5 separate regions of the Homo sapiens genome follow, and regions 1, 3, 4 and 5 are each reported to be linked to region 2. The links are microRNA targets in miRTarBase. Many come from high-throughput screens and were not tested one by one. Region 2 holds a microRNA gene; each other region holds the end of a gene's coding sequence.

Evidence for each region. Region 2 holds the annotated microRNA hsa-miR-4639-3p (UCACUCUCACCUUGCUUUGC, at 3,722-3,741, shown strand). A microRNA usually pairs through its seed, bases 2 to 8, with sites in the 3' UTR of a target mRNA and lowers its output. Matches are read on the target gene's strand: a 7mer-m8 pairs with bases 2 to 8, a 7mer-A1 pairs with bases 2 to 7 and ends in A, and an 8mer does both.
Region 1: the mRNA of ERVMER34-1 is a reported target of hsa-miR-4639-3p. The part of its 3' UTR that is shown has no 7-base or 8-base seed match.
Region 3: miRTarBase lists GMCL1 as a target of hsa-miR-4639-3p. Seed matches in the 3' UTR shown: 7mer-A1 at 3,173-3,179.
Region 4: miRTarBase lists SLC35E1 as a target of hsa-miR-4639-3p. Seed matches in the 3' UTR shown: 7mer-A1 at 3,470-3,476.
Region 5: miRTarBase lists SKAP2 as a target of hsa-miR-4639-3p. Seed matches in the 3' UTR shown: 7mer-A1 at 3,799-3,805 and 7mer-m8 at 3,603-3,609.

What each region holds. Positions count from the first base shown.
Region 1 is chr4:52,737,800-52,744,167 of GRCh38, forward strand. It overlaps ERVMER34-1 (endogenous retrovirus group MER34 member 1, envelope), which reads right to left. Exons shown (of 3, transcript NM_001242690.2): 3 at 4,754-6,368. The coding sequence ends at 6,030. Among named protein-coding and RNA genes, the nearest start is that of ERVMER34-1, 10 kb to the right of the region's middle.
Region 2 is chr6:16,137,882-16,144,323 of GRCh38, forward strand. MIR4639 (microRNA 4639) reads left to right here and starts at 3,675; the gene lies at 3,675-3,743. It overlaps MYLIP (myosin regulatory light chain interacting protein), which reads left to right. Exons shown (of 7, transcript NM_013262.4): 3 at 3,744-3,929; 4 at 5,139-5,336; 5 at 5,818-5,982.
Region 3 is chr2:69,877,658-69,884,099 of GRCh38, forward strand. It overlaps GMCL1 (germ cell-less 1, spermatogenesis associated), which reads left to right. Exons shown (of 14, transcript NM_178439.5): 14 at 1,252-3,727. The coding sequence ends at 1,347. Among named protein-coding and RNA genes, the nearest start is that of SNRNP27, 13 kb to the right of the region's middle.
Region 4 is chr19:16,548,315-16,554,756 of GRCh38, forward strand. It overlaps SLC35E1 (solute carrier family 35 member E1), which reads right to left. Exons shown (of 6, transcript NM_024881.5): 6 at 1,523-5,595. The coding sequence ends at 5,365. Among named protein-coding and RNA genes, the nearest start is that of CHERP, 9.1 kb to the left of the region's middle.
Region 5 is chr7:26,664,897-26,671,338 of GRCh38, forward strand. SKAP2 (src kinase associated phosphoprotein 2) reads right to left here. Exons shown (of 13, transcript NM_003930.5): 12 at 5,195-5,296; 13 at 2,172-4,760. The coding sequence ends at 5,204. Among named protein-coding and RNA genes, the nearest start is that of LINC02860, 30 kb to the left of the region's middle.

The DNA of each region.
Region 1 (6,368 bases), not on the chromosome of region 2:
ACCTGAGTTTTGGCATGAGCAACTGGGTGGAATAGTGTCATTATTCATTGAGATAAGGAAAACTGAAGAATAAGTCTGGGGGAGGGAGCTGAAAGTGAAGTTTGTTCATGCTAAGGTTGAGATGCCTCTTCAGCATCCAAGGGGAGATGACAGATAAGTACAAAGAGACATGAGTTTGGAGTTGAGTAGTGAAATCCAGGTTTGAGATACAGATTTGGGAATCATTGCTGGAGACTCAAGAGAGCCAATTGTGTAGTTCCTGTTTAAGGGCTGGTAGGCTTGAGACCCAGAAAGAGCTGAAGGCAAGGGGGAAAGGTCAAATTCACAGGCAGTCAAGCAGGAAGAATTCTCTTCCTCAGGGGAGGGTCAGCCCTCTTATTCTCTTTAGGCCTTCAGCTGATTGGATAAGGCCCACTCACATTAGGCAGATAAATCTGCTTTACTCGGTATTCCCATTTAAGTGTTAATTTCGTCCCAAAACACTTCTACAGAAACACTCAGAATACTGTTTAATCAAATATCTAGGTGCTCTGTAGCCCAGTAAAGTTGACACAAAAATTAAGCATCACACTGTGATTCAGGGAAGGTGTTTGGAAAGAGGGAGTGGCCAACCATTAAGACTGGCACTGCACGATGTGTTAAGAAGTTTATAGACCATTTATTTGGCAAAAGGGTTTTTTGAATATCTTTGTAGAAATTATTAGGAAGACAGAAGGTATGAAAGGGCAGAGTATTTCCTTAAGATACATTTCCTGTGAAATTACTCTGCCAATGAAAATGAAATTTTAAATATCCTATTATACATGGTACATTTGCTTCAACCTTTCTGAAGGATAGTTTAATACAGAAAAAAAACTCATTAAAAAAGGCAACTAGGTTTAACATACATAAACTATATATGTATATATTTACACATCTGTTTAATTTGAGGATGTAAAATACTATTACTTTTTAAAGCTTTTTACTCTGAATTATATATTTAAAAAAAAACAGTGCAGAGAGATTCCACGTAGCCTTCACCCAAATTCTCCCAAGTGGAAGTCACTATAGCACAAAAACAAAACTAGAAAATTGACATTGAGCTGTGTGTGCCAATATTACATCATTCTGTGTCATTTTGTCATGTGTAAATTCATGGAACCATCACAACTCAGATATAGAATTATTATGTCACCACAAAGATCTCACTCAAAAAGTGTTATGTCCTAAGGCTTTCGTTTGGAAAACAGAAAAAAAAATCATCCACATTTCCTCCCAAACAATTATTTTTATTGCATATATTCCCTCACAGTTGTAATTACTGTATATCATAATATTTTCTTAACAGCAAATGCACATTTTCTTCACCTTTGACTTTGTACACCTCTAGGTTTTGAAAGCAAATCGACCCATGCTGCAGGATTATCACAGGGTTGTTGCCACCCCTGAAATATTCCTTGTGGTAGTACTGATTGCTGGTTAAGATGGCTACATTTAAATACTCATCTTCTGAAGCTTTCTGTGGAGAAATTAAAAAACATATATCTTGTATAAAGTCATAGATAACAATCAAAAGAATAAAAAGTATTTGTTCTTCAGTAGTCCATCTGTGTAACTATCATTAGAATTGTATGAGGAGCCTAGCCCAATTACTTTTCATGATTTAAGTGAATTTAGCATTTTCTTGTTGCTTGTACTTTGTATGTAGATTCTCTAGATGCCAATAATGATGGGTTAACTTTTAAAGAAGTGAATATATATACACATATGTGTATATACCTATATATAAATTGAGGAGACGATTTAACTTTTGAAAACGATGTCTTGACTGAATACTGCAAAGCCAAAGACAAAAAAGCAAACGCTGTATTCTAATTGGTTACTTTGTTTCTCATAAAGGGACAGGTTAGCAATTATGTAACTATGTTATGTAACTAGTTTACACATATAGTAGAGTTTAACAAATAAGCAAATAAATCTTAGCTAATAGGAGACAGGTTTCTCAGCAACAGAAAAGTTACAAATAAGCAAGGGGTAAGGTGAGGCTAGAATGAATCCTGTGGTGCTGAGAGTTGGAGATATCAGTATAAACTCGTTTATTTCAATAAACTGTAGGTATATATGTATAGGTATCTGTGTATACATACAAACATTTCCTAGCTGTGTCCACTGAGGGGGCCTACACAGTGATAACCTAGTAGCAGTAGCAATGAGCACATCTTGTGCCCAGATCTTGGTTTCTAAAACCATTTTTCAGTACAGGGAACAATGGTTTCTTGGGAAAAAAAAATCACTGATTCTAGGGCTGGGCAGGAAAAATAAAAGATGAGCTTGCAGCATATTGGAGCGCTGGAGAGTAAGGAAGTGCTGAAAAAAAAAAAATAAGGCCAAACAAACAAAAAACACATAGGGAGAGGCATGTCAAAAGGAAACAGGAACAAATTTTCCAAGAGCTCTCAAAGGCCAAAGCTGCAACACTTTGAGCAACAGTATGATAGTACTGGATTACAACCCAAAGAACAATGTATATATCCATGAGTCCACACTGATAAAAAATATTGGATAACAATTTTCCTTAAGTAAGCTTCTAATTAATAAATGTATCAGGAAATAGGAAGGTGAAACATCTGGTGAACCTTTGAGCTGGCTAATAAATGTTTTTGCCAACCAACCTATTTTGTGTTCCTTCTGATGCATAACAATGGAAAGAGGATTTTTTTCCCCTATGAGTTTTGAAAATCAGAAATACCTTTGTGTCCATCACCAGTAATGTTGAAACTATTTTCTATAACTTGTCATGCCCTACAAACCTTACTTTAATCAAATATTGTGCAGCTTAACACACCTCATAATCAGTCATGCTATTTGATGAAACTTTATCCTTTTAATAAGACATTTTCTAACATTCCAATGACTGCCCCTTTATTTCATATTTCCTCTTCACTTTGTATTCGTACTTGACATTGTGAAATGAGGACCAGGCCAGGTGCGGTGGCTCACACCTGTAATCCCAGCACTTTGGGAGGCCAAGGCGGGCGGATCACCTGAGGTTGGGAGTTCGAGACCAGCCTGACCAGCATGGAGAAACCCTGTCTGTACTAAAAATACAAAAAATTAGGTGGGCATGGTGGTGCGTGCCTGTAATCCCTGCTACTCAGGAGGCTGAGGCAGGAGGATCACTTGAACCCAGCAGGCAGAGGTTGCGATGAGCTGAGATTGTGCCACTGCACTCCAGCCTGGGCAACATGAGTGAAACTCCGTCAAAAAAAAAGGAAAGAAAGAAAGAAGGAATGAGAGAAAGAGAGAAAGAGAGAGAGAAAGAAAGAAAGTAAGGAAAGAAAGAAAGAGAGAGAGAGAGAAAGAAAGGAAAGGAAAGGAAAGAAAGAAAGAAAGAAAGAAAGAAAGAAAGAAAGAAAGAAAGAAAGAAAGAAAGAAAGAAAACCAAGTACCACAAATACCCAATACTGAAAGTTGCATTTCTTTTAATGGCTTCTCTAGTTTCAATGCATATTGCATAACAAACACAGGAAGTCCTATATCTTTCAGCTCAAGGAGGCTTTCTCTTGTGTCCTATATTGCTGAAAGTTTTTATTACCTTCTTTTGTGTGTGTGTGTGTGTGTGTTTTGTGCTTTTTGGGGTTTTTTTTTGAAACAGAGTTTCGCTCTTGTTGCCTAGGCTGGAGTGCAATGGCATGATCTTGGCTCACCACAATCTCCGCCTAGTGGGTTCAAGTGATTCTCTTGCCTCAGCCTCCCGAGTAGCTGGGATTACAGACATGCACCACCAGGCCTGGCTAATTTTGTATTTTTTTTTTTTTTTTTTTTTTAGTAGAGATGGGGTTTCTCCTCGTTGGTCAGGCTGGTCTCCAACTCCTGACCTCAGGTCATCTGCCTGCCTTGGCTTCCCATAGTGCTGGGATTACAGGCATAAGCCACTGCACCCAGCCTACCTTCTTTTGATATCAACATTACTATGAACAACAAACCCATCTATAAGGGTTCTATTGTTCCAGAGTATGAGTTTTCTTTTCTTTATCTTTTTGAGACAGAAGCTCACCCCATCACCCAGGCTGGAGTGCAGTGGCACAATCTTGGCTCACAGCAGCCTCGACCTCCCAGCCTCAAGTGATGCTCCCACCTCAGCCTCCTGGGTAGCTCGGACTATAGGCACATGCCACCACACCTGGCTAATTTTTTGTAGAGACAGGGTTTCACCAGGTTGCCCAGGCTGATTTCCAACTTCTGGGCTCAAGCGATCCACCTGCCTCAGCCTCGCAAAGTGCTGGAATTACAGGCATGAGCCACCACACCCAGTCTGTGCTTTTTTTTTTTTTTTTTTTTTTTTTTGCCACAGAATCTCACTCTGTTGCCAGGCTGGAATACAGTGGTGCGATCTCAGCTCACCGCAACCTCCGCTTCCTGGGTTCAAGCGATCCTCCTGCCTCAGCCTCCTGAGTGGCTGGGACTACAGGTGCCTGCCACCATGCCCAGCTAATTTTTGTACTTTTGGTAGAGATGGGGTTTCACCATGTTGGCCAGGATGGTCTTGATCTCTTGACCTCGTGATCTGCCCACCTTGGCCTCCCAAAGTGCTGGGATTACAGGCGTGAGCCACCGTGCCCAGCCATCCATGTTTTCTTAATGTAACTTGAAATGATTATTCTGTTAATAAATTATCAATCTGCTATGTTCATAAATTTGTTTATGTGCAACCTTAAAAAGGAGGTGAGAATCTCACAGTCCATTCCTCTTACATGTGAATCACTTTCAATTGTGAATGGCTTTTCCTGTTTTATTTGCAAATACATACACATATACATATCATTTCCCCTTTTTTAAAATAAAAAGTAACATACGAGGCTGGGTGCAGTGGCTCACACCTATAATCCTAGGACTTTGGGAGGTTGAGGTGGGCGGGTCATGAGGTCAGGAGACTGAGACCATCCTGGCTAACACGGTGAAACCCCGTCTCTACTAAAAACACAAAAAATTAGTCAGGCGTGGTGGCAGGCGCCTGTAGTCCCAGCTACTCAGGAGGGAGGCAGGAGAATGGCATGAACCCAAGGGGGCAGAGGTTGCAGTGAGCCGAGATTGAGCCACTGCACTCCAGCCTGGGTGAAAGGGCCAGACTCTGCCTCAAAAAAAAAAAAAAAAGAGTAACATACTAGGTATGCTGTTCTGCATCTTGCTATTTTTCAGTAATAGTATAATCTTTAGCAAGCTATCTACCCTTTGAGTTGATTAATCTGTAAAATATGAACACCGAGAGGATTAACTAGAAAGATGCATGTAAGGAACTCACCAGAGGACTGGGCAGAGTGAAGCATTTGATATAATAGATGCCACCTCAACACTCCCTGCATCCTACTTCCACCTGCGGCCCATTTCATAAGATGGCTAAAATGCATATCAGACTAATATTCCATTAGACCACTAAAATGCCCATGGGAAATCAGGAAAGCTCAGATCATACCAGCCTAAATTATTTGTGGCTTTCTCCCTAAAGTAAGTTTTCAGTCAATTCTGATGACTACCCAATATTTATTCTTTGAGACAAATTTAAGGACATAGTTTTGTGTATGTGTACATTGGATTCTTCTACCTTCAACCAAAATCAAGGGAACAAAATTCCCTTATCTATTCAAACACACTCTTTGGTCTATCCAGAAGCCTACAAAGTGCTGTTGGGAGAAACTATCCTGCCCCCAACTTAGTTCCAGTGTTTGGGGGCTTGCAAATTAACAGATCAATAGAAAAAACATTTATTATATATGCATGCAAGAACACTACAAAGAGTAGCTCTCTGAACAGCAAGGGGTAAGGGTTTACAGATCAGCTTTATGGTGTGTGTCTTAAGGCTTCAGAATGAAACTACAAAAAGTTCTGATAAGGCTTATTTACAATACCTTGGGAGGTCCTAGTGCTAAGTGCCCTTATAAGAGGAACACTCAGAGGAGGGTTTTGGCAGCTGAATTCTCGGTAAGACCTGCTTTACTCATCAAAGTTTAGCTAAGGCTTTTTGTCTGCAGCTGCTGTTTGTTCAGATATTCTCAAAGTAGACTTGTGTCATATTGATGGGTTGTTAGTCCCTTCATTGCCCTATTTGAAACTTGACATGAAGTTTCACTGACAAGGAGCTGTGCTGATTGCTGTGGAGATAAGGCTAGGTTCAGAGGTTGGGAGTTAAGGGATCTGCGAGATTTGCGAAAGACACGAACATAGATTAAAACAAAGATGAATAAGCAGAAAAGAACAATTAAAAGCACATAGCCCCATGATCTGAACCAGTCTCCCACTTTTGCAAATATGCCTTGCCAATCAAGTAACGGTACATTCTTCAGGTTCTCGGATGCTTCGTGGAGACGCTGTATATTAGACTTTATTTCTTC
Region 2 (6,442 bases):
CCATTAAAAAAAAAATCTATAATGCTCAGTAAATGTTAATTCATCTGTGCCCACGATGCCAGGACATGAGTTTAGCCAGAATGTTACGCCTTGGGCCCCAAAATGTGATCCATATATTGAAAATATCAGTTTTCTTAGTAACTGGGTAAAACTTAAAGAAGAGTCATGAATTAGAAGGTATAACCCGAAGAATGTTTAAAAGGTGCAGTTTGAGCTTATTTATGCTCATAGGATGTATTCATGGACATTTCCTTAAGACAGAGAAAACAGTTTTTTTCCAAAGGCTTTCTTTCTGTTTGTGATTCTAGGATGTAGCCTCTATTGAATTGAATATGTCATCTACTTTTGATCTTTAGTGCAAAAGCATTCACTGCAGGCATAACTTATTTGACCACATCTGCTTGTTTTGATATTATTGGTAACATTTTGCCTACTTTACAAAAAAAAAAAGGAGGGGGCAAAACCCAGGAGCCAGATAGTTACAATCCAGATGGTTTGAGGGGAAAATACTAAGAGAAAATACTTGATTCAAAACCACCCATAAATATTGAGCCATCACTGAAGTTCTTGTTGGAAACATGTCTCTGAGCTCTGCTATCCTCTGTCTTGGAAAGAGCCTATTAGAGTGCTGATCTTTGCTACTAGTACTCTGTTGTACTGTTCTCCTGGAGAGCATAAACTTGTCACCCAAAAGCTAGATTGTGGCTGGAGTTATTTTGATGGGATATGTCCCTTTATTGTAAAAGGCTGTAAGTCCATCTAAAAAGGAACTCTCAGACATGTTTACCCTAAAACCCCAGCTTAGGGCTGGGCACAGAGGCGGTGCAAGACAAATATTTATTGGCTTGAAATGAAAAGGTTGCTTTATAGCCATGAAACTGCAAAATGCAGGAAGGGACTATCAGAAAGCTGATGTTGACAGTAAGGAGAAGGATTTTTCATGCTTACCAGGCATCCTCTGCACTCCAGGCTAGAATGTGGAGTATGTCGAAAAGGTCAATCATCGCCCTTGCTAGATCTTTTCTTAAATTCTGGCCCATATGCTGAGAAGGATCAGTGGTGCTCTCAGGCTGCCTGCCACCTGTTTACATTCTGTTACTGCTTCTTTGCCTTTGATTTTGGCCACTGTCTCTCCGGAAGTGTAGGCATGGATAGGTTGCAAAAAGACACGGAATTGATTCAAAACTCTTCTTACTATCTAATAAAGCAGGAACTAGTCTCTAACTTTACACCTGAAAAATAAGTTAAAAGCCACTTTTGCCTGTAATCCCAGCACTTTGGGAGGCCGAGGCAGGCAGATCATGAGGTCAGGAGATTGAGACCATCCTGGCTAACACGGTGAAACCCCGTCTCTAATAAAAATACAAAAATTAGACAGGCATGGTCTAATGTAGCTATCGGGAGGCCGAGGCAGGAGAATCGCTTGAACCCAGGAGGCGGAGCTTGCAGTGAGCCCAGATCGTGCCATAGCACTCCAGCCTGGGCGACAGAGCAAGACTCCATCTCAAAAAAAAAAAAAAAGGCCACTTTTACATAAGCAGTAATTAAACTAAGAAGACTTCGTTTGTGGCAATATTCTTCAAGTCTTTCAGAGCGTAATTTCTTCTTTAACGAAAGCATAGATGCAGATTTTAGTTTCCTAACAGCACACCTCCACCCCAGTCGAATACAGAGATGGGTACATTCACCAAGATGAAGTTTATCAAATGGTCATCTAAGAAGCCTTTTGAGGCCTGCAACAGTGTAGTAAACCACGGCTTGCTGAGAATGCTGGATCTCAGTCCTCAGATAGCTATTTTACAGCAAATTATTTTCATGGTGATTCCTTTGCCCCAGTGGGGGCTCCTTTCTCAGTTTAGCAGTATGTCAGAAATACTTTAAAGATTAGCAGATGTTTGGGTTAATAAAAACCATCTTTATCTTCTTTGAGGCTATTACACATTCTTACTATGATTTCTTTACACGGGCTTTGAAAAAAAGAAAAAACTGCAGTATTTGGCAGAGTTTCATCATTTTAAATATTTCTTTATCATTATAGAATGCACAAAACATTGAATTTAAATACTTCTTAGTGAAAATAAGATTAATGGCTCTTGTCAGCCAGACATTGTAGACTCTCAGTATAGCACCTCCTTAGATTTGTAGCCTCACTGCCTCCTCCTTAGTCGATTCTTACCTTGCTCATGTTCCTCTACCTGGAATGTCAGACACAGATATATTATTAAACAGAAACAGTGCTGAGGACATCGCACCTGGCCAAAGTTACAATTCATTTGTTAATGGGACGAATAATGTGGCAATTAGCCTTGTTTGAGAGGTTATGACAAGTCATCGAAGGAAGGTTAAAACTTCACATTTGCCAGGGACACTTGTTATAACTGAGGCCAATCTGTCTACAGCAGTTTAGGTGCTCTTCAGAGTTTTGGGCAGTGTGACCAGTATCTGAATTTTACAGGAGTTTTTAAGTGTGACATAACCTTTTAGTAAATGTAGAATATAGTATTGTATACAACTAGGATGGGCTTAAACAGGATGAAACTAAGGTTGGAAGGTAAACTAATCACACATAATATGCAGTTTTATGTACATTTTTGGAGCTCTCTGATGTTCGAGGCACTTAAGAAGTCATACATAATATACATGTTATGTCAAATACTGTACCAGAGGAATAGAGGATTTGCATGTGATACAGACCAAAGGGTATCCAAGCAAGGCGACAGAAAGAATGGCCCTCAGGACAGAGGGAGCAGCAAGACCAGAGACACCAGAGCATGAACATGCTTCCTAGATTTCCCAGGGAGAGGAATCGTTCCCTATCCTGGGGCATAGCAGCTGCAGGGAATGACAGGAGACGTGGCTGGAAAGCTGGGGCCAGATGGCGGAGACTCCTCAGCTCCACGTTAACAACGTGCTCCCTTGGCAAGCCGTACAGATCCTTTGAAGGATTTTGAGCAGAGAAATGACAAGTTTATACTAGAAACAAGCAGCATGGAAGGTAGGCTGCCTGCATGGAGTCTGGAGGAGGAGAGCAGCGCAGAGAATAGTGTAAATTCTTCCTGCAAGTAGTATTGAGGAGGTACAAATGGGAGGATAGAACTGGATTTAAATAGTTTTCAGAGAGAAGAAAGTCAAGTGAAATAGGACAAAGAGTCCAAAGTCAGTCCGTGGTCTCCATTCGGAGAAAAAGGGCTTGGGAAAGAATATATGGAGTTTGGTTTTGAATGAGCCAAAATTGAGGTACCGAAGAACATCCAGGTGGTGAAGCCTATAGGAGATTGGACATTTTTCATGTGATTCTTAGGACAGAAGCTGGCACTGAGACTAGAGATTGGGGTATCATTTGAATAAAGGTGAGAATTTTGTCTTTATGTATAGAGTTCCTTAAGATTCTATCAGAATCCATGTCAAGATACAATTTTTCTGATTAAAATAATTTCTTTTAAAACACTATAATGCAGAAACTTATGTGTAATTATTTTATGTTTTGTAACCTTAATGTTACCGAACTTGTGTTAAATAAGTTTATCTTGTTTGGGTCACAACTTTTATTCCAGAGAAACGCAGTTCTTATTTTGATTTTGCCTTAATACTGATGATTTTTTTTTGAAGTTCTTTAATGTTAAGCATTTTCAGTGTGACTTTTAAAATTGCTTTCCTTAAAAGTGACTGTGAAATTGCTAAGTAGGCTGAGATTGATGTCAGGTTATCCCCAAGCATAACCTCACTCTCACCTTGCTTTGCAGGCATATCTTTTTCTTGCACATCAAGGAGGCCCTCTTGGCAGGCCACCTCTTGTGTTCCCCAGAGCAGGCAGTGGAACTCAGTGCCCTCCTGGCCCAGACCAAGTTTGGAGACTACAACCAGAACACTGCCAAGTATAACTATGAGGAGCTCTGTGCCAAGGAGCTCTCCTCTGCCACCTTGAACAGGTGAGGCTGTTGAATATAGTATTGTTTACAACTAGAATAGGCTTAAACAGGATGAAACTAAGGTTGGAAGGTAAACTAATCACACATAATATGCAGTTTTATGTACATTTTTGAGCTCTCTGATGTTCGAGGCACTTAAGAAGTCATACATAATATACATGTTATGTCAAATACTGTACCAGAGGAATAGAGGATTTGCATGTGATACAGACCAAAGGGTATCCAAGCAAGGGGACAGAAAGAATGGCCATCAGGACAGAGGGAGCAGCAAGACCAGAGACACCAGAGCATGAACATGGCAGCATCAGGGCTACTGCATATATTCATAGAGCTATCAAATGTATAAGCATTTCCAAAAGAAGATGAATCTGTGGTACATACACATAATTTGTGAAGTTAAGACTGGGCCATTGCCCAATTTAACCAAATATTTTCAAAAAATTTGTTAGCCTTTTATTTGAAAAATATGTAAACACAATATGAAATGCTATATAAAATGGGAATTTTTTAAATCTGTGCCTTTAAGTACAAATCTCCTAAAATAAAAAATCTATTATGTATATTGGTGTTTTCTTCATCCCAGCAAGAATTAAACCAGGAGATCTAACATAGGCATTTTAGTTATCTATTCCTGCATAACAAGTTACCCCAAAACTTAGTGACATAAAACAACAAAAATTGTCTCACAGTTCTGTAGGTCAGGAATCTGGCCATGTCTTGGCTGGGTCCTCTGGCTCATGAGACTGTAGTCAAGCTGCAGGTAGAACTCTGTCTCATCTGAAGGCTCGACTGAGGGTGGCCTCCATGCCAGGTTGACTCCTGTGGTTTGTTGGCCTACCTCCTTCCCTGGCCACAGGGGCCTCAGGGGTCAACTTTATACTTATAAACTATATGTGGACAAATGCATGAGACTTTCCAATATGTAAATTTGACTTATGTATATTTTTAGAGACTTTCCATAATTCTTCCAATTCATCACCCATCCAGCATCCCCAAAGTGTTTTTACCAAGTATTTAATAGTTGAGATCCCAGTGTCTTAGACGTTTTTTATAGTAAGTTCGCTAAATACATGAAACATCAGTAATACATAAGTTTTAAGTTGTTGTGATTCATCAGTGTTAGTATATTTCACTCGTGAAGACTACATAGGTTTATCTCTAAAGCTAATATCTGTATACTTAATTCTCTGTCCTCTTGGTGTCCTCCAGCATTGTTGCAAAACATAAGGAGTTGGAGGGGACCAGCCAGGCTTCAGCTGAATACCAAGTTTTGCAGATTGTGTCGGCAATGGAAAACTATGGCATAGAATGGCATTCTGTGCGGGATAGCGAAGGGCAGAAACTGCTCATTGGGGTTGGACCTGAAGGAATCTCAATTTGTAAAGATGACTTTAGCCCAATTAATAGGTAAGCCAAGACTTAACTTTTTTTGACCTAAGCATGTGTATACATCTGTAGCTGTCAATGTAATAGAAAATAGGAAGGGATTTACTCGACAGTCAGCTCTTAGGAATGAAAGATTTCATTTTGGTATGTACATTAATTTTATTCAGGCCTAAATAACCATTTTAAATGTTATTCAAGGTATACAATGTGGCAGAGTTAACGTTTTCCAAATAACCCATTCACTGCCATAAAAAACTTGTTTTCAGCTCTAGACATGCATGTGCGCACACCCAGCACTTGCTCCCATACTTCCCTCCACATATGCCCAACTGCTTTTCACTGTATCTTTACAATAAGGCAGCATTATGGTGATGTGATAACCCCAGAGGAAGCGTCTGATTTTTCTGCTAGGTCATGAGCAAATGGGGATCCCACAAAGGCACACACATGGTGAAGAATCACTCCTTCTAGATCTGCTTTCTTTTCTCTTCCTGTCTCTTAGGATAGCTTATCCTGTGGTGCAGATGGCCACCCAGTCAGGAAAGAATGTATATTTGACGGTCACCAAGGAATCTGGGAACAGCATCGTGCTCTTGTTTAAAATGATCAGCACCAGGGCGGCCAGCGGGCTCTACCGAGCGATAACAGAGACGCACGCATTCTACAGGCACGTATCTCGTGTGCTTGGTCACCTCAGCACCACAGCTCTCAGGTTTTTAGGTGACAACCAGGTTTCTACGGTTCCTTGGATTGTTGTGTCAATGAGTCTAGTACAGAATTTAAGAAATTCTGAACATTTTGTTTCCGTAGTAGCAGTGGAGTCCTTATTAATGTAGTCTTGTTTTACCCACAGAAGGTGCATGTGTGTGAGCTGCACAAACACATTCTCTGCTTACCTCCTACCGTATTCTCTTATGCCATTAATCTAGACACAAAGTGTGTTAGGAGATTTCTATGCCTATTTAATCAATACAACAACCCTAAGGGGTTATTATTACCCTAATGTTAAAGATGAGGGAACTGGGAGGATAATTATTTACTTAGTCTAGGACTCAGCTTCAAAGCCAAGTTTGATTACCCTAAAGGTAACCCTGAGGGACTGGGCCTGCTCCACTGCTCAGGAGAAG
Region 3 (6,442 bases), not on the chromosome of region 2:
TCTTTTTATAATACCACTTTCCCTCGTACAGAGAGAGAGATTGTGTGTTTGTGTGTGTGTGTGTGTGTGTGTGTGTGAGACATTTGTACTCTCTACCTTCTTTATTCAAATTTATCTTCTTGTTCCCTCAACACAGAAGCTGTGTCTAGTGAGTCTGCTTCAGTCACACAGATATTCTAGTTTTAGTTCCTCTTCATGCAGGAATACATGTCTCAGTAAAAAATTAAAACTTTGGATTTAAACAGTGTTTAATAGTATCTTATCCAAAATAAATAAAGTGTAACTAATGCATACTATTGCAGAGAGCATATCCCAGGCATTTAAAACGTAGGAATTCTCATTTTAGTGTTTCTTCTTTTACTCTGAGGATTGATTCTATTTACCAAATGCTTCTAGTAAAGGATATATGAGGTTCCAAACAGAGATCTGTAGCATCAGGGATGTTATATTTGTGTAGTGTCAGCTCCTGTCTCTGGGAGTTCTGAGCATTCTTGTGTGTGTTGATGTAACTGAACCTGAAATTGCTTTTCCATGATAATGTATTTTATGTTTCAGGAGACAAATTACATGTTTGTCATAGGGACAGTGGGAAATGTCAATAGTAGGAACCCTGCTTTTTGATGATGATAATGACTCCCGACCTTCATCTGGGTGATTTGCTGTACCCAACGGCCATCAGTAATTGAAGCCAAGTAGCCAGGCACAGTGGCACCTGCCTGTAGTCCCAGCTACTCAGGAGGCTGAGGCGGGAGGATGAGGCAGGAAGATCTCTTGAGCCCAGGAGTTCAAGGCCAGCTTGGGCAATATAGAAAGACCCTATCTCATTTTTAAAAATAATTAATTAATTTTGTAAAAGGAAATAAATTTTTTTAAAAATTGAAGCCCAGTGAGAAGTTTATGTATTTCTAGACATTGTATCTGTTGACAAAATATGTAAGTATTTGATAGAAATTTTTGCAATAATGAAAATAACTACCATTATTGAGTACTTAATAGATAGCTGGCTTTGCAAAACCCCCTGTGTATTATCTCTTGTAATCCTCCTTTAAGTCAGGTACTCTTACTGTCCCCATCTTACAGTGAGGAAGCTGCATTTGACAAGGTCACACAGCTAATGGGTGGGAGTTTGGAGAGTGGAGTTGTGGATCTCAGACTCAGGACACTATCTCCTTTGGTTCACTCAGTTCAACAGTTTGGTTTTTTGTTTTTATTTTATCTAATTGTCATTGAATCTACAAATCTGTCTTATAGGAACAAGTGGTGATGAACTTGGACAGCAGGCTTCTGATCTTCCCTTTATATATCTGCTGTAACTTCTTGTATATATCACCAGAAAAAAAGAATTGAAAATAATCGTCACCCAGAAAATCCAGAAAACTGAAGATTTCATCAGTTGGAAACAGTAGCACTTTGAAAACTTTTTAGGCCAGCTTTAATTTAATGGCCCTACTGATATTCACATCGAAGGTGACTAACAATGACAAAGGCCTTATGAACTGTACAGACAATACAGAAGATTATTCTTATCCTCATTGCATTTCTATGCATATGCGTAAGAACATTTTAAAGCCAAGAAAATATCTGTCAAACCATTTCTGTTAGAACGATGTCAATTCATGCTTTTAATTTAGCATCAATAGAAAATTGCTGTAGGTAAATCTCACATTTATCTGCAACAAAATATAGATTTAATTTTTAGCTTAAACTTTGTTTCTACCTTATGTTAGTGGACCTCAGTTATCCATCTGTAAATTTCTTTTTATTTGGCTAAAATAATCTAAAAGAATAATTTGGTTGGCCAATTAGAAATGCCTTTTTCAGTTGGTGTATTGAAAGCTTTCCTTTAACATTTTCACCTGCTCATTGTGATTCCTCCTTTTAGTCTAATATCTTTCCAGGTCATACTTGTTTTTAATCATTAAATATTTTCTTCCTGGTTTTGGAGACTAAGCTGATAAACTTTTTTTAAAACTTAAGCATTGTCATTGCTATTTTTTTTAATTTGACTTTCCTAGGAGTTTAAGAACAGTGAAAGTTAGCTTTGCACCTTCAAATGATCTTGAATGAGGGAAAAATCAGTTTGATTCCAAGGATATTTCTTGCCTTACATGGTCTTTTCTTTGACAGTCTGTACACCTTTATTATTAGGTTTTGAATTATTTATGTACCAGATATTATAGTTTTAAACATTTTAATATTCTCTGATCTTTAGAATTATTTATGTTCAAATTTTAGTTGGGAACTTTGTTTCCTACTTAAGCTCAGGACTTTTTACCCTCTGAATTGAGTGCCTTTGAGTGACACATGCTAATAGAAATTTCATAGTAAATGTAAATAAGGTCAGAGGATGTAATATGGAGCCTGATGATGAAGCATTAATGTAAAAATGGAACTTATTTTTGTCAAAAATGAGATGTACACTTGTCATGATTTATGTATGTTGACCTTTTGTGTTTATTACTGTTTTGAAAATAGCCATGTTCATTTTCTTTCCAGTTAGAGTAAGTACTTCTGTGGTTAATGTATATTTTTATTATGGTTTTTAAAATGGGAATCATTTTTATGTATCTGTGCAAATAATAAATGCCCATTTGGAAAAAGAGTAAGCTCTTACATAAAATGGACCAAAAAATCCCCCTTAATTGAAACCAAAATTTTTTCTTTCTAGTTAGGTTTTTTTCCCAACTCCTTTTAACTTTTGGAATTTATTAATAATTTTTTTCTTTTTTAATGATATGCCCATAGGTTCATAAATTGCTTTTGTTCTTTTAAAATTCATCCATTTGGTTTAACTTAAAGGAACCTTTTAAATGCCTCACCCTTGACCCTCAGAGCTGGAATTTAAATGTTTCTAATACAGTGATTTGGCTGTTATCAAGAGGTTACATTTCAGCTGGGTGTCAGCCAGGTGTGGTGGCTCACACTTGTAAGCCCAGCACTTTGGGAGGCCGAGGCAGGCAGATCATCTGAGGTCAGGAGTTTAAGATCAGCCATGACCAACATGGTGAAACCCCATCTCTATTAAATACACAAAATAAAAATTAGCCAGGCATGGTGGCACACGCCTGTCATCTCAGCTACTCAGGAGGCTGAGGCAGGAGAATCACTTGAACCCAGGAGGCAGAGGTTGCAGTGAGTGGAGATTGCGCCATTGCACTCCAACCTAGGCGACAGAGTGAGACTCCGTCTCAAAAAAAAAAAAAAAAAAAAAGAGGCTACTGTACTTATTTTTATATTTGACTACATTAGGTCTTTTTCACGGGAAGCTGTTGTTTTCTTTCCGTCTCATTACTGTATAAGAGTTTCCTTACCCTTTATGTATTGAAAAATATATAAATTCCAAACTTAAATTATTTGGATAATTAAGTTTTTGCAGATCTTGGAAGTAAAGATAATGTTTTGATCATATTAATGAATAAAGTTAACTGTTTCATTTCACTTACATAAGTTAACTGGCCAAATTGGATTTATATGTGGTTTCATCCATTGGTTCTGTCCTGGCCAAGTTGCTTATGTCATCCATAGACAGGATAATTCTTTCTTCAATCACAAGTAGGTTAATGTTCTTATTTGAGAAGTTGATAATTGTCAGGTAGTAATTCACACTGGTAGTAAAGATGTGCTTTTGTTTTCTTACCAAATATTTTTATGTGTTTCCAGAGTTCTTTTCAATAGAAATATTTTCAATAAAGTGTTAATAGTGTAAGATAAAGTATTGTATAAACCATGGTTTGTGAAAGCTTTGTGTTTTGTCAGCTTTTGTCTTACAGCCTCTACTATTTTTTTATGCTAGAGCTAGAAAACAATATTTAATTTTAAGAATGATTTGTGTTTGTCTATTAGTAAGGAAGAGGTCTTTAAGAGAATATGTCCTAGAGTTTCACACTAAGTTATTAAGAAGGGATATAAATACCTTTCCTTTAAAAAAAAATGGTTTGGCATGGAAACTTAGCAAGATAGGCAAAACCATGTGGAGAACAGTGGTAGTCACTGTTTTGTTTTGTTATGTTTTGTTTTTAAGGCGGAGTCTCGCTGTGTCGCCAGGCTGGAGTGCAGTGGCGCGATCTCAGCTCACTGCAACCTCTGCCTCCTGGGTTCAAGCAATTCTCCTGCCTCAGCCTCCTGAGTAGCTGGGACCACAGGTGCACACCACCACGCCCAGCTTATTTTTGTATTTTTAGTAGAGACGGGGTTTCACCATATTGGCCAGGAAGGTCTCGATCTCTTGACCACCATGTTGGCCAGGAAGGTCTCCATCTCTTGACCTCGTGATCCGCCCGCCTTGGCCTCCCAAAGTACTGGGATCACAGGCATGAGCCACTGCCCGGCCTGTTTTGTTTTGTTTTGTTTTTTTTATGAAGTGTTTCACAGCTAACATTTTATCTAATTTCAAGTCTTTCAATAGGATTACCATCATATGTGAGCAATTTTCAACATCAAATGCAAAAATAGGGTTACTGGAGGCTGGGCACAGTGGCTCACACCTGTAATCCCAGCACTTTGGGAGGCCGAGATGGGCAGATCACCTGCGGTCAGGAGTTCGAGACCAGCCTTACTAACATGGTGAAACCCCGTCTCTACTAAAAATACAAAAATTAGCTGGGCGTAGTGGCGGGCACCTGTAATCCCAGCTACTCGGGAGGCTGAAGCAGGAGAATCGCTTGAATCTGGGAGGCAGAGGTTGCAGTGAGCCGAGATCGCACCATTGCACTCCAGCCTGGGTGACAGAGTAAGACTCCATCTCAAAAAATACATTAAAAAAATAGGGTTACTGAAGATCATTGTGGCCACTTAAGTGTAAGTTAATTAAAATTTAAAGAAATTTAAAATGTACTCCCTCAGTCACACTAGCCACACTGTAAGTGCTCAGTAACTCATGTACCTGGTGGCTACCATATTGGACAGTACAGCTATAGAATATTTCTATTTCAGAAAGTTCTGATAGCTGATGTAGAATATTGGACTGGTAATGGTTATACTGTTTAAGATGAACCTGTGTAAAGAATAGAAAATAATAGAGCCAGGGGTACAAATGATAAGCATAGATGACTTGTCAATCTCCTGAAATATGTTCAACCAATATGGACCCAATCATGTTATTGGATTAAAATAATTTTTTAAAAAGGGCATGATACAAACTCTCCTCAACCAGAGAGTTTTAATTCTTCCCAAGGTCTAAGGTACACGGGTACAAAGAGCAAAAATCCTCAAAGGGCATCAATCATTATTTACTAGTGGTCAGACTGTATCTAATTATGGAGCAGAATTATTCAACAGCGTGCATTCATTTGTAAAGTATAAAAAGCTGGGCATGGTGGCTCATGCCTGTAATCTCAGCACTTTGGGGGGCCAAGGCAGGAGGATCTCTTCAGGCCAGGAGTTCTGAGACCAGGTTGGGCAGCATAGCAAGACCCCATGTCTACAAAAAATATTTTTTAAAAAAATAGCTGAAGCCTGACGCAGTGGCTCACGCCTGTAACCCCAACACTTTGGGAGGCTAAGGAGGGTGGATCACCTGAGGTCAGGAGTTTGAGACCAGCCTGGCCAACATGGTGAAACCCTGTCTCTACTAAAAATACAAAAATTAGCCGGGCATGGTGGCACGTGCCTGTCGTCCCAGCTACTCGGGAGGCTGAGGCAGGAGAATCTGTTGAACCCGAGAGGCAGAGTTTGCAGTGAGCCAAGGTCACGCCACTGCACTCCAGCTTGGGCGACAGAGTGAGACTCCATCTCAAAAAAGTAAATACATAAATATAAAAATAATAAAAATTAGCTGGGTGTAGTCCTAGCTATTCAGTAGGCTGAGGCGGAGGACTGCTTGAGCCAAGAGTTCAAGGCTGCAGTGAGCTATGATTGTGCCCGCTATACTCCAGCATGGGCAACAGAGTAAGACCTTGTCTCTTAAAAATAAACTAGAATACTTTTGTAATGGCTGGTAATTTTATAAGAACTAGGACTGGCAAAGGTTAAAAAAAAATCTAACTTCCTGGCTCAAAATAAAATTTCCTGGGTCAACAAAGACTTTGCTGTCAATCCTGTAGGTTAGATGTGCATTCCTTTTAACTAACATTTAAAATTGACCACTTTGCTCTCCTTAAAAAGGAATCTTCTCTTAAACTTCTCTGACATCACACTATTTCTATTTCTCCGGCCACTCCTTGGTCTCATTTTGTTTTCTTCCTCTGACTGTCTCCAGGCTCTTTTCTCTCCTGAGCCTGCACCAGGTGATTTCATGTACTCTCATGGCTTCAAATGACCATCTGTATTTTGGTAATTCCTTTTCTTGTAGTTTCAGCCTAGATCTCTCTTCCAAGTTCCAGATACACATCTAGCTGACATCTCTTGAGTGTTCAAAATAGCATCTCAAGCTAGCGTGTCCAGATCTGCATGCATCTGCTTTCCCCAGAATTTGTCTTGTATGCCTCATGTCAGCAAATCACGC
Region 4 (6,442 bases), not on the chromosome of region 2:
TGCAACCTCTGCCTCCCACGTTCAAGCGATTCTCCTGCCTCAGCCTCCCAAGTAGCTGGGATTACAGGAGCGTGCCACCACGCCTGGCTAGTTTTTTGTATTTTTAGTCGAGATGGGCTTTCACTATGTTGGCCAGGCTGGTTTTGCACTCCTGACCTCAGGTGATCTGCCCACCTTGGCTTCCCAAAATATTAGGATTACAGGCGTAAGCCCTGCCACCTCCCCCTAGTCCCCCATCCCCCGGGTCTTAGCATTTCTAAGTAGCTCCCATGTGCTACTTAGTTACATACCTGTCATTTAGGCTGAGTGCTTTGAAGGTAGGAGGCTTACATATCTGTTTCCTGCTGCTTGACACAGCCAGTGCTTAGTAAATCACTAAACAAAAAGATTATGAATGAAAAGGACATGGGCAACAGTTTCAGCAGAAACTCAAACCCTTTCTGTCTGAAAGAAATCCTTTGCTGGGGATGGCTTAAGTAATGGGGAAAAATGGGTTCTGGAGCCAGATTTAAGCAGTTATGTAATCCCAGATGAGTGACTTGACCCCGTTGGGCCTCATTTTCACCTGAAAAACAAGGCTAATAAAACTCACAAAGGTATCGTGTGTGAAAAGCTCACCACTGAGCTGGGCATGTAGCAGGTACACAGTCTTGGCTGTCAATACTCAAAAATGGCTTCAGGCTGGGCACGGTGGCTCACACCTGTAATCCCAACACTATGGGAGCCAAGGCAGGTGGATCACTTGAGCCCAGGAGTTCCGGACCAGCCTGGGTAACACAGAGCCCCATCTCTAAAAATATTTTAAAAATTAGCTGGGTGTGGTAGTGTACACCTGGACCAGCTACTTGGGAGGCTGAGGCAGGGGACTGGAATGTAGGGTTTGGTGCTGCAGGAAGCTGTGGTCGTGCCACCGCAGTCCAGCTTGGGTAATAAGGTGAGACCCTGTCTCTTAAACCAAAAACATAACAGGCCAGATAGCTTGAGCCCCAGAGTTTGAGACTAGCCTGGGCAACAAGGTGAAACTCCATCTTTACAAAAAATACAAAAATTAGCCAGGTTTGGTGGCACATGCCTGTATCCCAGCTACTTGGGAGGCTGAGGCGGAAGGATCCCTTGAGTCTGGGAGGTTGTGGCTGCTGAGAGCCGGGATTGCGCCACTGTACTCCAGCCTGGGCGACAGAATGAGATCCTGTCTCAAAAAACATGAAACATACCAAAAAAAAAAAAAAAAGTTTCATAAGCACAGCTGCCACAATGTTCCTGGACTTCCCATGTTATTCCGTTCAATAAAGTCACGTCATTAATTTAGCTGTGATCCTATTTTCATTGTATCATCTAATCAATTCACAAATTGCACGTCCTTATTTTTGGCTCAGAAGAAAAAACAAAGGTTGCAGTAAATCCAGACGTGACAGCCAAGTTGGCTTGCTCTTTCTCCTCCTTCCACATTTTGTTGCTGGGCACACTGAAGACAGGGCCACTCAAAAAGAGACCCTCGCTGACAAATCGGGACCAATTTTGATTCCCTGGAAACCATCATTTATTTTTGGTAAATGCCAGTGAGGAATATACACGTCATTCCTGCAGAAAAGTCTATAGCATTTAAGTCTTGAAAACAGGTGACAATTGAAAAACATTATAATATTTTCAGGTCTTTTAATAATTCAATGCTCTGTGTCCTTCAGGCTGTGAGACCCTAAGGTATTGGGGTCTGGTAATGTCCCAGCTATAGCAAAGGGCCTGTTGGGTGACATAGGACAAATATACAGCAAAATTCAGAAACTGCAAGTGCTTCCTCACTTGAACGGATCTGGCCCCTTTGTGGTAGGGGCTTGACTGTTCCTAGAATGAATGACTTAAAATAAGGTGGTTAAAAATTCTGCAGTGAGTCTCGCCATGGTGAACAAACATGATTCAGAAATGCCTCCTTCTATAAAATGAAGGAGCTGGGTTGGAGTCAGTATTACCAGCCAGACCATACCCTGATGGGTAAAGGAAATTCTCTACCACAGAGCTCAGCAGTGAGGTGGCTGAGAGGAAGGCAGGCCTGCAGATGAAAGCGTGGGAGTGGAGCATGTGGGGCGGGCACTGTCCGGCTGGGAAAACCCAGCCTTCAAGAGGCCATTGTCAATCAGGCTGGGCACGGTGGCTCATGCCTGTCATCCTAGCACTTTGGGAGGCCAAGGTGGGCGGATCATTTGAGGCCAGGAGTTCGAGACCAGCCTGGCCAACATGGTGAAACCCTGTCTCTACTAAAAACACAAAAAATTAGCCAGCCGTGGTGGTGCATGCCTGTAATCCCAGCTACTCGGGAGGCTGAGGCACGAGAATCACCTGAACCCGGGGGATGGAGGTTGTAGTGAGCTGAGACTGCGCCACTGCACTCCAGCCTGAGCAACAAAGCAAGACTCCATCTTGGCAGGGGGCGGGGGGATGTGGACCTTCAAGTCTCAGAAATATGTGTTTGTCTTTTGATCTGCTGATTTGGTGTAACGTGATTGCCTCATTCATTCCAGTGTACGTACTTGCTGTAAATTTATATACAGAATTAAATAGCCCATTTATTAATTTATAAACCATAATAAAACCAGACAGTCATTTCCCGTCACCAGCAGATCTTGCATTGGAAAAGGAAAATAATATACAAATTTCAGCAACTTCAGAGATTTCAGGAAGCCTGAATGGAGGTCGAATTCATTTTGGAGTTCAATAATATGTTCAAAGAATCAGGTACTATATATAATCATATAGACAACTCCCGTAATATCTCCGCAGTGCAAAATTATCCCTGTTTCTTGTCATTCACCAGTGAGAAAAATCCAACTGCAGACTTGACTGCCTTCGGTGAAGGCACACGGCAAGTTCTTCTGACAAATAACACCCTTTGGGATTGACTCTTCACGTTTTACACAGCAATTGTCTCAGCTTGGGACCAAAGTATTTACAAAGCAAGCGAACAAGAGACGAAGCAAGAGGGACACTTCTGAGGCCGGTGGTGCGGAAACTCACCGCCAAACAGGGTGGGGGGCCAGTCACCTCTTCAGGAGTGTCCCATGTGTCAGCTGACATAACATCTTAAATACAGAATTCCAATTGAAAGAAAAACAAACAACAACAAAAGAAACACCAGTCAAGCATAAGTGATGTTACTTCCTCTCTGAACAGGGAAACATCTCGCTCGCTGGGAGATAAAAGGTAAATCTCTCATTTGCTGCTCTCTTCCCCTAAGTGCCAGCAAGAAGCTGGGTGTGGTGATGAAGAAAGAAGGCAGCCATCACCTAAGACCCCACAAGCCAAGCCGTGGTCCCCTCCGTGAGGGCACGGTCCTTTCATGAAGCCGTAAAAGAGACCACAGCTCGGACCTGAGCACTCAGGGTTACCTACTGGGGTCTTGTCATATTCCTTATGTTGATTTCTGCCAAGACCCAAACTGATTCCTTTTTTTTTTTTTTTTTTTTGAGACAGAGTCTCACTCTGTCACCAAGGCTGGAGTGCAGTGGTGTGATCTCAGCTCGCTGAAACCTCCACCTCCTGGGCTCAAGTGATTCTCCTGCCTCAGCCTCCCAAGTAGCTGGGATTACAGGCAGGTGCCACCATGCCTGGCTAATTTTTGTTTTAGTAGAGATGGGGTTTCACCATGTTGGCCAGGGTGGTCTCAAACTCCAGTGATCCACCCACCTCAGCCTCCCAAAGTGCTGAGATTACAGGCATGAGCCACCACGCCTGGCCCCAAACTGACTCTTGACCAAAGAATCTGATTTGGCAAACCAAATCTTAGTGCAGTGTTCGCTCCTCGTCCCCTTACCCAGAACATGATTCAGATCCTAACATAAACACAAAAACAGGTCAGGGAACCAAAACACTGTGGTCTTGTCTATTATACAAAATATTGAGATAATGTTCACGATTCATTCTGTTTTCAGCAATTGTGACAATTTTGAAGCTTCTCTCGAAGCTTCGAAACACTTCATTTCCTACTAAATACCAAAACGTGTCAGACAGGCATCACCAGTGGGAACTTGGTTTTGTTTTGTTTTTTTTTTTGAGATGGAGTCTCGCTCTGTTACCCAGGCTGGAGTGCACAATCTCGGCTCACCACAACTTCTGCCTCCCAGGTTCAAGCAATTCGCCTGCCTCAGCAGCCTGAGGAGCTGGGACTACAGGCACGCGACACCATGCCCGGCTAATTTCTGTATTTTTAGTAGAGATGGGGTTTCACTATGTTGGCCAGGCTGGTCTCGAACTCCTGACCTCGTGATCCGCCCATCTTGGCCTCCCAAAGTGCTGGGATTACAGGTGTGAGCCACTGTGCCTGGCCGGGGAACTTTGTTTTTAAACGTTTACAAACAAAAAGATTTTCGATGCATAGGCCAGTCCTAATGCATCCCATAATGGGGACCAAGGCAAAAACACACACACACAACTACAAAATATTCCCTAGAAAAATGCAAGATCCTCCGAAAATCAAGATCTCTCTACCAAACAACATACCAAGTCATCACAGAAGAGGTGAAGATGCCTCTCAAAAGACATGTGCCACAGAAATAGAGCTTGAAATACTGAACACGATTTCTCGAAGATCCTTCTCACCACCCCAAGAGAAGCGCCCTGCTCTGGTGAGGGAAGAGGAGGCAAAGGAGAAGAGAGAAGTTTCCCTTCCATCTGGATCTGGGTGGATGCCAACCCTGACGTGCAGGGCAGAGCACCAGGCTGCAGGAACTGGATGCTAATTGCAATCGCTTTTTGCTTTGGAACATTTGCCAGGAACTTGTGAACTGCTAAGGGGATGACCAGGAAACTGGATCCATCTCTGTGGCTGGGGATGTTTTGAATGATTCTCGCGGGCTCCCTGTCTGCTTGGTGACCCTGTTGGTCCTATGCGTATCTGCGCCAGGGAATTAAACTAGCCAGTCTGACGTTCTCAAGCACCGCCCTGGACACCCCCACTGCCAGTTCATGGTCTACAGCCACAGTGACCCCAGCTTTTCACACAGGTCCTGAATGTTATCTGGAATGCAGACACAAGTGCTCTGAGCTACACTGCTTGGGGAATAATTCCACATGGAAAGGTACAACGTGGCCAAGATCTCCGCAGGGACACGGCCCTCAGATGACAGACTCCAGGAAGAAAGAGCATGAGACACTGGTCTCTGTTTAGGTTTGCCCAGAGCTCACGGCCGTCTGCACTGCAGGCAACGCATCCTCCTGCGGCTCACGGGGGGCCAGGAACCCCAGGGCTTCTGATGGAGAGTTATGCACCGTCCCCTCGGCTGGGTTGTACATTCACTGATTGTCAGAAGTTTCTGATACTGCTGTGGGGGCCGGGGAAGGAGTCACCAACAGTCTGGTCCTGTCCTTTGGACTCTACACATCATAGCGGTTCAAACTGTACGAGTTTGGGTAGCTCTGCCGGCTGTATTGGAAGTGGTCTGTTAAGATGTTGTTGCGGCCGTACTGATAGTCCCCGTGCTGGGGGAAGAGGAGGCCGTTGTGGGGCTTCTCCAGTGGGCTCCGGTGACGCTCCTTGCTGCTCAGGTCTGCTGTGGTGACGGGGAGGAGGTGCTTCCTGGCTTGCTGGTTTGCATCGTACTTGGTCTGTGCCAGAAAGAGAGCAATGAGACAGGACATGCCCGGGGCATAAGAGCTCGTAATTCAAAGTCAATCAACTGGCTGGCTGCGGTGGCTCACACCTGTAATCCCAGCACTTTGGGAGGTCGAGGCGGGAGGATCACCTGAGCTCAGGAGTTTGAGACCAGCCTGGGCAACATGGCAAAACCCCGTCTCTACTAAAAATACAAAAAATTAACCGGGTGTGGTGGCGCATGCTGTAGTTCCAGCTACTCAGGCGTTCTGAGGCACAAGAATCACTTGAACCCAGGAGGCGGAGGTTGCAGTGAGCTGGGACCATACCACTGCACTCCAGCCTGGGAGACAGAGCAAGACGCTGTCTCAGAAAAAAAAAAAAAAAAAAAAAAAGTCAGTTAACCTCCGGGGCCGGCATAAGTCATAGGGCTTGAGCAAGGAAAGCAGACTTGAATGGACCAGACCACAGTGCATGGACAGACTCAGAAGACAAGTCCTTGGCCAGGCGCAGTGGCTTATGCCTGTAGTTCAAGTGCTTTGGGAGGCCTAGGCGGGAGGATCACTTGAGGCTAGGAGTTGGAGACCAGACTGGACAAAATAGAGAGACCCCATATCTACATGTGTTAAGAAACAAATGAAGAGGCCAGGTGTGGTGGCTCATGCCTGTAATCCCTACACTTTGGGAGGCCAAGGCAGGTGGATCAACTGAGGTCAGGAGTTGGAGGCTGGCCTGGCCAAGATGGTGAAACCCCATCTCTACTAAAAATACAAAAATTAGCCAGGTGTGGTAGGCGCCTGTAGTCCCAGCTACTCGGGAGGCTGAGGCAGGAGAATCGCTTGACCCCGGGAGGCGGAGGTT
Region 5 (6,442 bases), not on the chromosome of region 2:
GAAGACCTAAACTGAGCAGTGGTATGACTAAGGCGACTTTCTGCATTTACAGTTCCTTTCATTTTGGGGACTCAAAGCACTCAAGTTAACATAATCATACAACTTTAAATAAACAGGGAGTAAAAGTTAACAAAAAGGACAAAAGCTAAATTATGATTAGATTTGGCAGCAACTGTGAAACTTCCCACTTACTTGCACAAATTTTTGATCTGCCCAAGGCGACAGCTAGAATGCTTTCAAGATCAGATGCAGGAAAGGCTTCTCTGATATTACGCAAGTGGAATGCAGGGCAGCAGTGATTTGAGATGTTTCACTGGAAAGTGAAAGTAGATCACTTGCCCCAAGCTGCCCGAGGAGGCACCTGTGCCTCTTATTTGAGGTCACAACACTGAACACAAGGGAAGAAAGGAAGGAAACATCTAAGGACAATGTACCACAACTCAACTTTCTTATTATTCACAATCTCACTCAATTCTGTTATAACAATAAAATCCAATCTACTTGTTGATAGTATTATGGGATATACTAACTGTATAAAGGCATTTTCTCTACCAGGTTTACTAGTCAAGCTCTTTTCTTCTTAAATCTCATGTCTTGAGATATTGTGGGGTGCCAAATCAGTTAATTAACAAATATTTACTGGATCCACACCATATAATGTGTACCATGCTGGCAATAAATAATATGTTTGTGTATAAGTAATGGTAGAACAGATTCTACTAGCAGAAACAAGAAAAAGCCCCTCAAACATAGCATTAATGAAATGTCATTCCATGCTACTGTGATCATATGATTTTTAAAGTATTTATCTCATCATAAAATAGTATGCTATCAGAGGTTCTAACAGATATTCTGGAAGAACTCAACTATAAAGCAGTAGGCGTATAATAAACTGGCTAAAGCTGAGATGTCTAGAAATCTCTTGTTCCCAATCCAGAGTATAAACTGTTGTGCATTTGAGTATATATTAAACTTGTATAATAATATTTTAACAATGTAGTACTTATTGTTTCTCTGTATTTTTGAATACTAAGTATATTACTATAAATAAGATCATATTCATCAAATGTTTTTATTTTATATATATATACAGTGTACACACACACACACACACACAAAGTATTCTTTCAACCTTTGAGTGAAGCTGTGTTTTCCATGGCTTGATCATGTTTTGATCTCCACTCTTCACCACCTCTTTCTTTACCATGTGGATTGCTTTCAATAGTCATGAACCTACTGAACTCAAGAGAAGCAAAAGTGATCTCTATATGGTGTGTGTCTATAACTCCAACAAATGAAATACAAATGACTGATTTATCTGAAATTTAGAACTTTAAAAATTCTCACAATGCTTCACTCAGTCTCACTGATGAAGTTCAAGCTCTTAAACAACATGTATATTAGGGTTAATTTTCTTCTAATGGCTGAACTGCAAATCTGAATTCATAATATCTAACTCAGTTCTATTTTAAATTATGACCCTGGATAGTACCAGTCTATGAATAAGTAGCAAGTAGTAGAGTGCAGAAATTACATGAAATTATATAAAAAGTAGAAATCATAAGAACTAAGAGTGAGCCTTTGTACACATTTAAGAAACAGTTGAATGGATGCCCTACTCTTTGTGCAAGGCTATATTCAAAGTGGTTGTGTAATGATAGCAAAAAGTGAAACAAAACAAAACATGAAACAAAAACGAAACCCCATATATATGGATTTCACCTACACATGGTTGAAAAGTGATTTCTTTTTCCCATGGTCCTATAATACTTTATGTAATTATCTGTAATTAAATTAGCACACAGTAAAAATAATCAGCTTCCAATAAAATAAAGTATTCAAAACAATTGCTGGACTAAATGACATTCTTTTTCTATGAAAGAAAGTGTCATATGCAGCAAAGTGGCAAAAATAGAACGGAGTGAGCTGTGTTAAGTGTAAATCCTAAAGCAATGAAAGTCATTTGTATTATCCTTACTTCTTTGAATAAATTCAGATGACAGCCCTATTTCATTTCTTCATTCAGTTTGGCGGCCAGATGGCATTAGAATCATTTACTTCACCTTGTTGTGCTTAATTACTACAATCAACACACTATTTTCCAAATTAATCATAACAAAGTAATTTCATTAGTAACACAGCAGGCTGTTGAATTATTAGCATCATAACAGTTTGCAAACAATTAAACTTTATTTGAACCTTAAAAATTTGCAGAGTGGAACATTATTGTAAGATCTAATGGCAATAGAGTACAAATTCAGTACAGAGCAAATAATCAAGCAAAATGCTATATAAAATATGACTTACAATCACCTTTGAAAAAAATTAGCTCTCTAACTGTTCACAGAAAAACAAATAAAAGCTAAGCAAACATAATGAGACCATAGCAATTAGCATATTTTCTAACAAGCCATGTTGTTTAAATTTATATTAATGATATTATTATGATCTTGAAGAGTATGTGATATATTGTCAAGGGTGTAAAGAAAACTCTCCCTGGTTTGTATACAAATGATTTCATCAAATGAATATAAAGCAGTCATGAATTGAAAGTAATGATTATTTGTCCTGTCACTCCAGTTTTAAGTCTTTTCTTTCCTTTCTTATGTCTCCCACCTATATTCAAGTTTTAAAAGAACAAAGGCCGGTGGAGATCTGAACAGAAATAACACCTTATTTCTGTATTGTCACTGTTCACGAGACTATCTGGCTTGGAACTGTTGGTCATCAGTTGGCAAAGGACTCCCTCTCCTGGATTAACTGTAAAAGGAGGCAGAAATCTAGATGCTTTCCATCATGGGCGAGTTTGTGCCATGGGGGAAGGGTTTCAAGAGGTTTTGTCTGCAATGAAAAGCTGCTGCCATCTACTGGCCTAGGACTAAAAACTTCTTTTCAACCCAAAGCACAAACCCAAATCCACAAAGGCTACATTGTCATGGGAAACAACGGCTTTTGCTTTTCAGCTGCTCAAGTTTTGAAAACCAGTCCACTAAAGTCGTCTTTGGTTGTCTAACTTTTGCCAAGATAATTTCAGTCTATTTCAATGGCACTATATGAGGAAAAGGTAAGAACTGCACAAATGTAACTTCTGAAAACTTTAACTTCACAATGTCTCTCTATATAAACTTGTTTACTCACAATCCCTAAAATCAAATTTCTTTTTTTTTTTCACATTTGAGATTGGATGATCATGATATTGAGGGGGTAATGGTAAAGCAGACCCTCTCAAACACTGCTTATAAACAGTTTTACACAAATAATGGAGATTTTAAAATATTACCAGCTCAGATACATGTTTAGAATCTTTATAAAGCAAAGATATTGAAAAGTTCCATAAAGATAATACCTGATAGGTAATGATTCAATATTAGGAGTTTATGTGTAGTCCAAATAATTATCTAACCAGCAATGCATTTTGACATATGTTAAGGCTACATTGGTATCTCATAGGTATTTTAAACACCTCTGATTTCAAATATACATGAAAAGGTAATTATATGATTCTACAAATCTTGCTCAGGCAGCACAGAGTATAACTCAAATGTCAGGCTAACACTACCTTTCTACTCACCTGTTGGTACATGCTACCACTGGGATTTCTACACTCTCCTCTGCAAACCCTTCCTTTCTTTTCAGTGCTCTGAGAAGTATATAGAAAAGCCTCAAATCTGCTGTTCTGCAGTGGGATGTAAATAGTATAGCAATAAGGCAAGATAAGAGAGTGCTTGGTTATGCCTTTTTACTTTGAGAATACACTGAGATTCTGTTTTTTTTTTTTTTTTTTTCTGAGATGGAGTCTCACTCTGTCGCCCAGGCTGGAGTGCAGTGGCGCGATCTTGGCTCACTGCAACCTCTGCCTACCTTGTTCAAGCAATTCTCGTGCCTTGGCCTCCCAAGTAGCTGGGACTGCAGGTGAACATTACCACACTTGGCTAATTTTTAGTAGAGACAGGGTTTCACCATGTTGGCCTGGCTGGGAGATTCTTTATACCATTTTGTTAGTGGTAGGGTGGTATTTCTTAGGAATTTTTTGTTTCATTAAATTTAAACAAAAGTACAGTAGAAAATGTTGCCAGGCCCATCATCGCACCAGGATATTTGTACGGTAAAATGCTTTGCATGAGTCATACTTCTGGTACGCACTTCTGTTGCAGGTGACAGCACACTGCCATTTGCAACTTCATCATTTTTTCTTTCTTGCGGCTGTACTTAATAGGAATTAAATGTGTGAAAATAAATAATAACAATAAAGTTATCTATAAAGTTTGAACATTCTTTAGCATTCTTTGTTTAGCAACCACATTCTTCAGCATCTACCAAAAAAAACTCGCATGATACACTAAATTTAAAATGCTATGAAATTATACATTACTCTCTAAAAATAATTGATGTCCAATGATTAAGAAACATTACAAATCACACCAGAAGTAGCAATAGTAGCATACTATGCTATAGTAGACTATATGTTACGTATAAAATAGTGATGAATTCTTCACACAAATCAAATGGGTAAATAAAAACTATAATTATTTCTTTGCAAAATAGCAACAGGTATAACTTAACTGGTTGCATCTAATTTACATTAATATCCTTCATTTAATTTCACATCAGAGGAATATTTTAATGAGCGACTGCATAAAATAACAGTCAAAGATAAGTAATGTTTAATAAAACAAGGAGAGGTTAGGAGCTGTCACTCGTGCTTTCATGACGCTTCTAAATCCAAAGCATTTGCAGACAAGCAGAAGAATTTTCCTTTTCTGCAGGAGAAAGGGAAAGCTGCATTTTAATTTTTGATTCAGCTGAAACTTGATTTTTCCTGCTTAAAAAAATTACACTTTTAGCCAAGGAAAAATGTATTTTTACTCAACATTTTGTCAATTCAACTCTTCAGAAAGGCCATAAAAAGTGGTATTTTACTGAAAAGGAGGAAGTTTGGGAAAACAGCTGGTTACTATCAAAAGAACTTTCTCTAAATAATCTATTCATTTCCAAAGTAAATTCCATAAAGTTTTTATTTTAAAAATTCTTATTTTAAAAATTAAACCAGATCAAACAAAACAAAAAAGATTTCGGGGCACAATCTTTGTGTTATCAGAAAACTCTAAAGACTTTTAAAAAGGCAAAGACTCATAACGAAGAGACCAAGAGAACATATGAGCTATTACAGAATATTGGATTAAAATGTACTTACCCAGGACTCTCAAATATCATACATCTCCATTATGTAGGCTTTAGGCACCAAGCCAATGGCTCCCTTCATTTCTCCTACCCACCAGCCATATCTATTGTATTCCTAATTGAAAACAATATGCAATATTAACCTTTAGACTGGTGTAAGTACAATGTCGTTTGTATGCAACTTCTTAGAAATGTTATTTCTATTTATAAAGTTAAAAGAGCTTGAGCTGCAAATGTAAACATTTTCATCTTTTTGTTTCTGGACACTTTAAAATGCTGTTAGGCAACGATTTAAATTAAGGTATAACACAAAGCCTGTTTATTATTGGGCACAGAACACAGAAACAATCACTCATGATGAAAACCTAGAAAATGAAACTACCTCAGGAAGCCTTCTCTCGGGGACACTCTCTCTCTCCACAGAGCCTGGGGATACCTTTCATGTGTAAGAGGCTATAGAAGGTTAAAGCCAGGATCCTTAAGCTATTATATTTGCCTTCAAGAAGCTTATCATCTAGCAAGGATAAAATAATTTTTTTTACAATAAACTACTTATTTCTTAAACTTATATGACCTAAAATGATTTAGAATGTTGATAGATGTGTGCCCCTTCTTAAGAAAATCTAATATACACACTTTAACAGATAAATTAGAGAATACGGAAACACTAATAATACCAAAAAACTGCTTAAAAAATAATTCACAAATAGGTTCCTTTAAAATAGTTTCCCTAAGGCATTTATTATTCCTTTATTATTGACCATAAACTACCTTAGATAAAGAATAGGTAGAAGGAATTTAAAGGTGCTGTTAGAGTCACCCTTATAGTGGAAGATCAATAGGAAATAAAAGTATCTCAAGGTATAAAGGCAAAATATTAATCTACCTCTAAAACAGAGTGGTCGATGAGTCACTTTTGCATTTACTTTGCAACTTGAGATAAACAAACCTATACCTCCTTTTCTCCCACTTTTTCCTCCTTTGACAGATACACCACTGCTTTAGGCATTGTGAATACTCCATAACCGGTCTCATATGTCTGCCAGATTGACTAATGTATTTTTATCTCAAATTTATTTATGTGTAGTGAGATACAAACAAAGTAAAATGAATTTCAAGTTTCAAGAATAATATCTTCCAAAAGCAATACTCTTCACAAGCATTGTAGTGCTCAAATTTAATTTTTCATATAAGATAAATTTTCAAAATCAATCCCAAAAGTAATTTAATAGGTTATGATTTTCCAGCATCTGAGTCATAG